Homo sapiens: one gene and its partners. The protein of the gene in region 1 purifies or fractionates together with the protein of each later gene. This does not show direct contact. Each region holds a gene or a part of one and is shown on either strand. Other genes may lie near its edges. The genes, in order: TSPAN16, ECEL1 and SCAP.

Evidence for each region.
Region 2: the proteins of TSPAN16 (region 1) and ECEL1 purify together in Homo sapiens (affinity purification with mass spectrometry; one large-scale study listed by BioGRID and IntAct). This does not show direct contact.
Region 3: the proteins of TSPAN16 (region 1) and SCAP purify together in Homo sapiens (affinity purification with mass spectrometry; one large-scale study listed by BioGRID and IntAct). This does not show direct contact.

The regions. Positions count from the first base shown.
Region 1 is NC_000019.10:11,294,615-11,298,367, forward strand, and holds the start of TSPAN16 (tetraspanin-16), read left to right. Parts: upstream 1-1,545; 5' UTR 1,546-1,683; coding exon 1,684-1,752; intron 1,753-1,888; exon of another isoform or gene 1,889-1,982; intron 1,983-3,527; coding exon 3,528-3,725; intron 3,726-3,753.
Region 2 is NC_000002.12:232,479,283-232,482,189, forward strand, and holds the end of ECEL1 (endothelin-converting enzyme-like 1), read right to left. Parts: intron 2,568-2,907; coding exon 2,500-2,567; intron 2,349-2,499; coding exon 2,224-2,348; intron 1,875-2,223; coding exon 1,809-1,874; intron 1,532-1,808; coding exon 1,436-1,531; intron 1,194-1,435; coding exon 1,117-1,193; intron 971-1,116; coding exon 871-970; 3' UTR 545-870; downstream 1-544. UniProt on the Homo sapiens protein: May contribute to the degradation of peptide hormones and be involved in the inactivation of neuronal peptides.
Region 3 is NC_000003.12:47,465,803-47,469,455, reverse strand, and holds part of SCAP (sterol regulatory element-binding protein cleavage-activating protein), read left to right. Parts: exon of another isoform or gene 1-1,403; intron 1,404-3,007; exon of another isoform or gene 3,008-3,107; intron 3,108-3,653. UniProt on the Homo sapiens protein: Escort protein required for cholesterol as well as lipid homeostasis.

The DNA of each region.
Region 1 (3,753 bases):
CAGGATGGTCTCGATCTCCTGACCTCGTGATCTACCCACCTCGGCCTCCCAAAGTGCTGGGATTACTGGCGTGAGCCACCGCGCCTGGCTTCAAATGACCTCTTAAATAAAGGTGTGGAAGGACACACTCCTGGCTGTGAACAGCACCCGTGGTCCAGGAGGAGACAGCACTCCTCTGTGAACATCTTGCTTAGTTCTACATGTTCCAAGAAGCAGGCGATTTGACAGACATTCATTAAATTAATTAAAGTGTAAGGTATTTTCTCCCATTTGAACCATCCGCCTTCCCCCAATCCATGCAGGACCTGGACCCAGACACACCCCAGCCCAGGGCTGGACAGAGAGGGGATCGGGGTGGGGCAATGTGAAGCTGCTATGGTTAGGGTGGGGAGGTATGGGGGCAAAGTGGGCTACAGACTGCAGGATCTAGGCCTGGAGGTCTTCAGTGCTGACATACAGAAGGTTTTTGGTCCTGAAATGCTAACTACATCTATCACCATGGAGAAAAGCCCAATGACCTGCTACTTGGGAGGCTAAGGTGGGAGGATCACTTGAGCCAGGGAGGTCGTGGCTGCAGTAAGCCATGATCACACCACTGCACTCCAGCCTGGGCAATGGAGCAAGATCCTGTCTCAAAAGAAAAAAACCCAGTGACCAATGGCTCACAGTTCCAGGACTCTCTGCCTTACAGGTTCCTGCCCTCATGTTACTCTTGGGGCTTCAAAGCCTGGTCTTGCTTCCTGTGTGGCCTCAGGCAGTTCCCTTGGCCTCTCTGAGCCCTGTATGAAGGATGGGCCAAGTATGGGCTTGGGCTTGGGAGGCCCGGTGGCTTGTAGCTAGATTTCTGCATCACAGAGCCTCTGGATCCATTCATTCATTCTCCGCGGGTTTCTTAAGTACTGCAGTGCCAGGCTTTGGGGACACAGCTGTTTTTGTTTTTGTTTTGTTTTGTTTGAGACAGAGTCTCACTCCGTCAACCAGGCTGGAGTGGAATGGCACGACCTCAGATCACTGCAACCTCCACCTCCTGGGTTCAAGTGATTCTCCTGCCCCAGCCTCCCAAGTAGCTGGGATTATAGGCGTGTGCCACCACACCCAGGTAATTTTTGTATTGTTTGTATTGTTAGTAGGTCTCAAACTCCTGACCTCAGGTGATTCGCCCGTCTCCGCCTCCCAACATGCTTTGACTACAGGTGTGAGCCACTGCGCCTGGCAGGGGTCACAGCTGTTAATAGGACAGCCCAAGTTCCCCCCTCCCCCGCTTGGATCCCCCAGTCTACTAGGAGATGTCAACTGTGCAAGTGGTTAGCTCTGGGCACTATGCCCACAGGGTCCTGGTGGCATCTGGAGGGTACCAGGGTAGCATACCATGCCTGTTCTCTTTCCCTGCTGTGACCTGTTTGAAGGATGAGGAGCCAACAGGGGGCAGTTTGGGGCACCTGATTTCCCTGGACCATGAGCCTTGCTCCAGAACCCAATTGTGATGTGATAAAAGGCTTATGACCAGGGCAGGGGGCAGCTGCTGGGCCGCCTTGGACAACCATCAGGCAGCCAGGACACAGAGGGGCAGAGCAAGTCAGCATTGGCGCCCCTTCCTCAGATCCCTATCATCTTGGGAAACAGTAGCCCAGAGGTTCAGGAAGATGTTAACTTAAATGTTCAGGGTGCCCCAGTCTGTTCAGCATGGCTGAAATCCACACTCCGTATTCTTCCTTGAAGAAACTGTTATCTTTACTCAATGGCTTCGTGGCTGTAAGTATGTCACAATCCAGGCCCCTGGTTTGTTGCAGCCCTTCCTCCACAGTCAGCTCCCTGAAAGACAGAAATAAGTTGATCCAAATTGGCATCGAGATCTGTGGTTCCCTGGAGAAGCAGGAGGGATGTAGGGCAGACGGAGGAGGAGGAGCAGGGAGCGTGGGGACCTCCATCAACCGAGAGCTGGTGAAATCCAGCACAGATGAGTGTGATCTGGGGGAGCCCAGGTGGGTGATGGAAGAGCTTGGCTCTAAGTCAAATCCTGTAGCCGACCAAGTTGTTTGGGAAGGCCAGGAGAAAGGGTTATTTTCTTGATCTTTTAAATTTGTCACATTTTTTTCCTTACCGTAAAAGTAACCCGAAATGTACATTGCTAAGGAATTGTCAGGCCGGGGGCGCTGGCTCATGCCTGTAATCCCAACGCTTTGGGAGGCCAAGGCGGGTGGATCACGAGGTCAGGAGTTCAAGACCAGCCTTGGTCAATATGGGGAAACCCCATCTCTACTAAAAATACAAAAAAATTAGATGGGCGTGGTGGCACGTGCCTATAATCCCAGCTACTCAGGAGGCTGAGGCATGTGAATTGCTTGAACCTGGGCGGCAGAGGTTGGCAGTGAGCCGAGATTGTGTCACTGCACTCCAGCCTGGGCAACATAGCGAGACTCTGTCTCAATAAAAAAATAAAAGAATAAAAACATAAAAAGAAGTAATTGTCTTCATTGTAGCATAGTCTAAGGAAAAGCTGCCAGGAAAGAGAAGGAAATGAAATATCACTCCTCCTCTTCACTTGTAACATTTTAAAGAGAATTAAGGCCGGCTGTGGTGACTCATGCCTGTAATCCCAGCACTTTGGGAGGCCGAGGTGGGCAGATCCATTGAGCCAGGAGCTCGAGACCAGCTATAGTGAGATCCCCATCTCTATTTAAAAAATAATAATACAAAATAAAGTGTTATTGGAACATGGCCGTGCTCACTTATTTGGAGATTGTGAACAGCTGCTTTTGGGCTACACCAATAGAACTGCGTAGTTTCAACAGACACCTTAAGTCCTGCAGAGGCCACAACATCTGGGTTTTTCAGAAAAAAAAAATTGCTAATCCCTGTCCTATGACATTATTTTATTTTATTTTATTTTATTTTATTTTGAGACGGAGTCTTGCTCTGTCACCCAGGCTGGAGTGCAGTGGCATGATCTCAGCTCACTGCAACCTCCACCTCCCAGGTTTAAGCGATTCTTCTGCCTCAGCCTCCTGAGTAGCTGGGATTACAGGTGCCCACCACCACGCCCGGCCAATTTTTGTATTTTTAGTAGAGACAGGGTTTCGCCATGTTGGCCAGGCTGGTCTCGAACTCCTGACCTCAGGTGATCCACCTGCTTCGGCCTCCCAAAGTGCTGGGATTACAGGTGTGAGCCACTGTGGCTGGCCTATTTTATTTTTTGAGACAAGGTCTTGATCTGTCATCCAGGCTGGAGTACAGTGGCACAGTCATAGCTCACTGCAGTCTCAACCTCATGAGCTAAAGTGATCCTCCCACTGCAGACACCTGAGTAGCTGAGACTACAGGCACGCACTACTACTGGCTATTTTTTTTTTGTTGGGGAGAGGGTACAGATGAGGTCTTACCAAGCTGGTCTTGAACTCCTGGGCTCAAGTCTTGGCCTTGGCCTCCCAAAGTGCTGGGATTACAGGCATGAGCCACCGCACTCACCCAGTTCTATTTGTATACAACTAACAGATTACTTTTCTTCCTTTCTGGTTTCTGTTCTAAAGGTGTCTGGCATCATCCTAGTTGGCCTGGGCATTGGTGGTAAATGTGGAGGGGCCTCTCTGACGAATGTCCTCGGGCTGTCCTCCGCATACCTCCTTCACGTTGGCAACCTGTGCCTGGTGATGGGATGCATCACGGTACTGCTTGGCTGTGCCGGGTGGTATGGAGCGACTAAAGAGAGCAGAGGCACGCTCTTGTTTGTAAGTTGGATCTGCACACAGACCCCAG
Region 2 (2,907 bases), on another chromosome or scaffold:
GGGCAGCACTCCCTGCCTCTGTCCACCCTCCTCATGCCAGGAGCCTACCATTCCTACCAGTCCTCTCCTTTCTGCACCCCAGAAGCCTGTCTCCACACTGGAGGAGAGGCTGAGATGTCCTGTGGGTCAGCCTCACCTCCATGTAAGTGTGGATCGCTATCCCCTTCTCCAGGGAGGCTGAGGCCAAGGGCCAGGCTAAGACAAGGCAGAAGTTTCTCCTACTTCAGACTTGCAGGGGTCATAAGCCCCAGCATCACCCTGGAATGCGGGTCACCAGGCCATGAGGCTGAACTAGGGGTGCCCCAGAACTGGGCAAGAAGCCCTGGGCGAGGCTTTGGGGGAGGGCGGCTGGGCCAGGGAAGTACTGTCGGTTGGTGGAAAAGATAGAAGAGTCCAGGAAGGCTGGACACAGGCGGCCAAGCCAGGGCGACCAGGAGACAAGAAGGTCCTCTCCAGGGTCCCGGTTGTGCTAAGTGCCCTAGCCTCCCTGCAGAGGGCTCTCTCCAGCTCCGCCTGCCCTGGGGACCCGTGAAGAGGCCAAGGCAACAGTGCAGTGATTTATTGACCAGACTTTGCAGCAAGAACACAGCGAAGGTGGGGCCCGTACAATCCAGCCTGGCAGAGGGTCTGGCCCCCTTAGAGCAGAATCTGGGGACCCCAGTATATTTCCCTCACAGCCCCCCAAAGTCCAGCCTCACCCTGCTCCAGGCCCCTCCTGAAGTGAGGGGCAGCAGGGGGACCGGGTCCTGGAGGGGCTGGAAGGCAGGTGGTGCCCAGAGCGGGGCTGGCACCGGGTGCATGCCTGCCCCGGTAGCCAGCAGGAGGTGATTCGTGCGGGGGCAGTGGGGGCGTGCAGGCGGGCAGCCAGGCTCACCACACGGAACACTTGTGGGCAGGGTTCATGGGTGAGTCCTTGGGACAGTGGAAAGCCCGGCCAAACTCCTCAAACTGGGACACACTGCCCAGCACCCTGGGGTGGGGAGAGACCCACACAGTGTTGGGCCCTGCAGCCACTCCAGCCCCAGCAACCAGGGGTGACTTTTATTCCTTCCCATGCCCCCTGATCCCACCCCAAACACAAGGAGTGGACAAGGCCAGGCGGGCAGGTGGGCATACCTGTAGTGCTCAGGGGCATGCTTGTCAGTCAGCACCTGCAGGTAGATGGACTGCGACCGCCGCTTGATGCACCAGTTCTGGGTCCAGGAGCGGGGTGGAGGGGAGGAGGGGGAGATGAAGCCAGGCATCCGCCCCCTTGCCCCCCACCCAGCACACAAGGCGGTAGGCCCCCTCAGCACCACAGGACCATCACCTCTGACGGGACAGGTGATGACAGACAGGCTGTCCATGCGAAGCCTGGGCAAGGCAGGACTGGGACTGACCCTGGATGCCGTGTCCCCACCCCAAGGCTCCCAGTCCAATCCCCCACCCAGCCCACCTGGGCAAAGGCAATGAAGAAGAGCTGGTCATGTGTGTACTTGAGCCGGGGAAGTGGGTGCTCTGGGCCGTGCTCCCGCACCCACTTCTGATAGGCCTGGGGACACAGAGAGCATGGACCTGCTATGCCCGCCCACCCTGGGCACCGCTTCTTCTCTGTCCTCCATCTAGGTAGCCCTCCCTGCTCTCCCTGTGAAGGGGGGCCCGTGAATCCTTCCTCTTCCAGTGGACCGTGGCCCCAGCACATGCCCTGCCCCACCCCAGGCCAGAGCTCAGCAGGGTGGGCAGGGAGAGGCAGCTCTGTCCCTCATCTGGAGTCCTCATCAGCCCCCGTCCCTCCTGCAGCAGGGGTGGAGCACAGGCAGGCCGCTCACGTGGTAGGCCAGCTTGAGGCCGCCCATATCTGCGATGTTCTCCCCAAGCGTGTGTTTCCCGTTCACCTGCCGGGAAGGGAAGAGGCCAGGGGGCTGCTTGGGGCCCAGCTGGCCTCCCTCAGGCATTGATACCCTGGGCCCCAGCCCCTAATTCCTACCACCCCTCTCCTTCCCTTGCCCAGAGAGTTTGAGGGGGGGCTCCAACCCTACTCTTTCCTCCCAACCCCCTTGTCCTCCGTAAGTCTGCGGACACTCATTATCTGTCCACGTGAGTGTGCGTGGGAACCGAATGTGTGTGCAGGGACCTGGGCACAGGTTTTGTTTGGACATGTGCACGTGCGCAAGGGTGTGCGTGATGCTCCCGGCCCGTGCCCCACCAGGCCTGAGGGGCACAAGGGGCAGGTGGGGGTCTCACCCGCTGGTTGTAGACAGTGAAGTTGTCATAGAGACGGACGATGCACTCAGCCTTTCGCAGGAAGCGGCTGTAGGAGGCCTCCGTCCACCAGTGCAGCAGGTTCCCTGAGCGGTCATACTGGCCCCCTGTGGGCAGTGCAGCAGGCTGAGACCCACCCTCACCTGAGCCCCCTCCCCTCCCCACCCACCAGCCCCAGTTAGGCCATCCCCTACCCTGCCTCTCCACTGCCTGTCCTGCCCCCTCCGGGCCATCCCCTGGGGCCCCAACAGGCCTCACCCCAGTCGTCGTAGCCGTGGGTCAGCTCATGTCCAATGATGGTGCCGATGCCCCCGTAGTTGAGAGACCTGGGCCCACAGCAGCAGCATCAGGCCCTAGCCCTCCACCCTCTGAGAGCCCCATGCTGCTGCCCAGGCCCCAGATGTCCCCTGGCCGGGCCAGGAGGTGGCACAGGGAGGCCACAGAGGCATCCGTGCGGTCCAGGGGCACATGTGCCTCAGCTTCCTCATGCGCTATGTGAATGCCAGTGGAACCTATCCAGCTTCTTTTAGGAAATCACATCTAACAGAGCTGGCTGGGCAGTGAAACAGGGCTGGAGGAGACAGGAGGGAAACGGAGGCACCTACGTAGGGGTTTCTCCTCCTACCTCATCATTAGTGTTGCGCCACCTTTGAAACATCAAAATGA
Region 3 (3,653 bases), on another chromosome or scaffold:
CCAGAGGTAAAGGTTGCAGTGAGCCAGGATCGTGTCACAGCACTCCAGCCTGGGTGACCGAACAAGACTCTCAAAACAAACAAACAAAAATTATTTGGTGATTTTTTTTTTGAGACGGAGTCTCCTTGTCACTCAAGCTGGAATGCAACGGCGTGGTCTCTGCTCACCGCAACCTTTGCCTCCCGGTTCAAGCGATTCTTCTGTCTCAGCTTACCAAGTAGCTGGGACTACAGGCATGTGCCACCACACCCGGCTAATTTTTGTATTTTTTGTAGAGATAGGGTTTCACCATGTTGGCCAGGCTGGTCTTGAACTCCTGACCTCAAGTGATCTGCCCACCTTGGCATCCCCAAGTGCTGGGATTGCAGGTGTGAGCCAACGTGCCTGGCCCATTTTAACCATTTTTAAGTGTACTATTTAGTGACATTAAATGTATTCACATTGTTATGCAACCATCATCACTATCCATTTCCAGAATGTTTTCATTATTCTACATAGAAACTATCGATCCAGGAGCCATATGTAGAAAGCTGAAACTGGATCCCTTCCTTACACCTTATACAAAAATCAATTCAAGATGGATTAAAGACTTAAATGTTAGACCTAAAACCATAAAAACCCTAGAAGAAAACCTAGGCAATACCATTCAGGCCATAGGCATGGGCAAGGACTTCATGACTAAAACACCAAAAGCAATGGCAACAAAAGCCAAAATTGACAAATGGGATCTAATTAAACTAAAGAGCTTCTACACAGCAAAAGAAACTACCATCAGACTGAACAGGCAACCTACAGAGTGGGAGAAAATTTTTACAATCTACCCATCTGACAAAGGGCTAATATCCAGAATCTACAAAGAACTTAAACAGATTTACAAGAAAAAAATCAAACAACCCTATCAAAAAGTGGGTGAAGCATATGAACAGACACTTCTCAAAAGAAGACATTTATGCAGCCAACAGACACATGAAAAAATGCTTGTCGTCACTGGCCATCAGAGAAATGCAAATCAAAACCACAATGAGATACCCTCACACCAGTTAGAATGGGGATCATTAAAAAGTCAGGAAACAACAGGTGCTGGAGAGGATGTGGAGAAATAGGAACCCTTTTACACTGTTGGTGGGACTGTAAACTAGTTCAACCATTGTGGAAGACAGTGTGGCGATTCCTCAAGGATCTAGAACTAGAAATACCATTTGACCCAGCCATCCCATTACTGGGCATATACCCAAAGGATTATAAATCATGCTGCTATAAAGGCACATGCACACGTATGTTTATTACGGCACTATTCACAATAGCAAAGACTTGGAACCAACCCAAATGTCCATCAATGATAGACTGGATTAAGAAAATGTGGCACATATACACCATGGAATACTATGCAGCCATAAAAAAAGGTGAGTTCATGTCCTTTATAGGTACATGGATGAAGCTGGAAACCATCATTCTGAGCAAACTATCGCAAGGACAGAAAACCAAACACCGCATGTTCTCACTCATAGGTGGGAATTGAACAATGAGAACACCTGGACATGGGAACATCACTCACCAGGGCCTGCCGGGGGATGGGGGGAGGGGGGAGGGATAGCATTAGGAGATAAACCTAATGTAAATGACGAGTTAACGGGTGCAGCACACCAACATGGCACATGTATGCATATGTAACAAACCTGTATGTTGTGCACATGTACCCAAGGGCCAGTGGGTGGGAATTGGTATCTCATTGTGATTTCAATTTGTATTTTCTAAGGAATATTGATGTTGAGCAATTTTTCATATGTTGATTGGCCATTTGTATATCTTCTTTTTTGTTGTTGTTTGGGTTTTTTTTTCTTTTTCTTTTTCTTGAGACGGGGTCTTCTTGCTCTGTTGCCCAGACTGCAGTGGCGCAATCACAGTTGACTGCAGCCTCAAGCCTCTGGTCCCAAGTGATCCTCCCACCTCAGTCTTCCAAGTAGCTGGGACTGCAGGCATGTGCCCCCATGCCTGGCTTATATTCATATTTTTTGTGGAGATGGGGTTTCACCATGTTGCCTAGGCTGGCCTTGAACTCCTGAGCTCAAGTGACCCATCCACCTCAGCCTTCCAAAGTGGTGGGATTACAGGCATGAGCCACCCCACCGAGCCTGTATATCTTCTTTAGAGAAATGTTCATTCAAGTCCTTTTCTCACTTTGAGTTATTAATTGTTATTTTGTTGTTATTGTTGAGTTGTAGGAATTCTTTACAAATTCTGGATATTAAACCCTTGTTAGATATATGATTTGTGAATAGTTTCTCCCATTCTGTTGGTTAGCATTTCACTCTCTTTATTGTGTGATTTGCACAATTTTTAACTTTTTTTTTTTTTTCTTTTTTAAGACAGAGTCTCCCTCAGTCACCCAGGGTGGAGTGCAGTGCTACAGTGTTGGCTCATTGCAGCCTCCACTTCCTGGACTCAAGCAGTCCTCCCACCTCAGCCTCTCAAGTAGCTGAAACTACAGGTGCACACCACCATGCCTGGCTAATTTTTTTTGTATTTATTTTTTTTTAAGATATGGGGTCTTGCCATGTTGTCCAGGCTGGTCTCAAACTTCTGAGCTCAAGCAGTCCGCTTGCCTTGGCTTCCCAAAGTGCTAGGATTAAGGCGTGAGCCACCACGCCCGGCCAAAAGTTTTTAATTTTTATGAATTCCAGTTTATCAATTTTTTTCTTTTGTTGCCTATACTTTTCAATCCTTGCTAAACTCAGCATCATGAAGATCTTTTTCTTATATTTTCTTCTAAGGGCTTTACAGTTTTAGCTCTTCTTTTTTCATTTATTTGATCTATTTTGAGTTAATTTTTGTGTATAAGAGTCCAACTTCACTTTTGCGTGTAACTATCCAGTTTTCCCAGTAGCATTTGTTGAAGAGACTGTCCTTTCCCCAGTGACTGGTCATGGCATCTTTGTCAAAAATCAGTTGATTATATTTGTGAGAGTTTATTTTTGGGTTCTTTTTTCTTCTTCTTTTCTTTTTTTCAGGTTAGATGGGTAGTGCTGACATCATAACAAGGTTCAAGAATGACTCATCTCACATGTGTGTGAAACACCCAGGTATCATACTGATGAACTACAGAAGATCTGGGCTCTCTATTGTTTTATATGTCTGACCTTATGCCAGTACCACATTGTTCTGCTTACTGTAGCTTTATAGTAAGTTTTGAAATCAGGAAGTGTGAGTCCTCAACTTAGTTCTTGTTTTTCAAGTTTGTTTTGGCTATTCAGGGTTCCCACTTTTTTCTTTGGACAAAGTAATGGGGAGAATTTCTTTCTTTTTTTTTTTTTTTTTTTTTGGTTTTTAAGACAGTCTCACTCTGTTGTCAGGCTGGAGTGCAGTGACGCAATCTTGGCTCACTGCAAACTCCACCTCCTGGGTTCAAGCGATTCTCCTGCCTCAGCCTCCTGAGTAGTTGATATTACAGGCACCTGCCACCACGCCCAGCTAATTTTTGTATTTTTAGTAGAGACGGGGTTTCACCATGTTGGCCAAGATGGTCTCGATCTCTTGACCTCATGACCCACCTGCCTTGGCCTCCCAAAGTGGTGGGATTACAGGCGTGGGCCACTGCACCCAGCTTTTTTTTTTTTGTTTTTTTAAACAAGTAAATGGAAAGAAATCCCACGTTC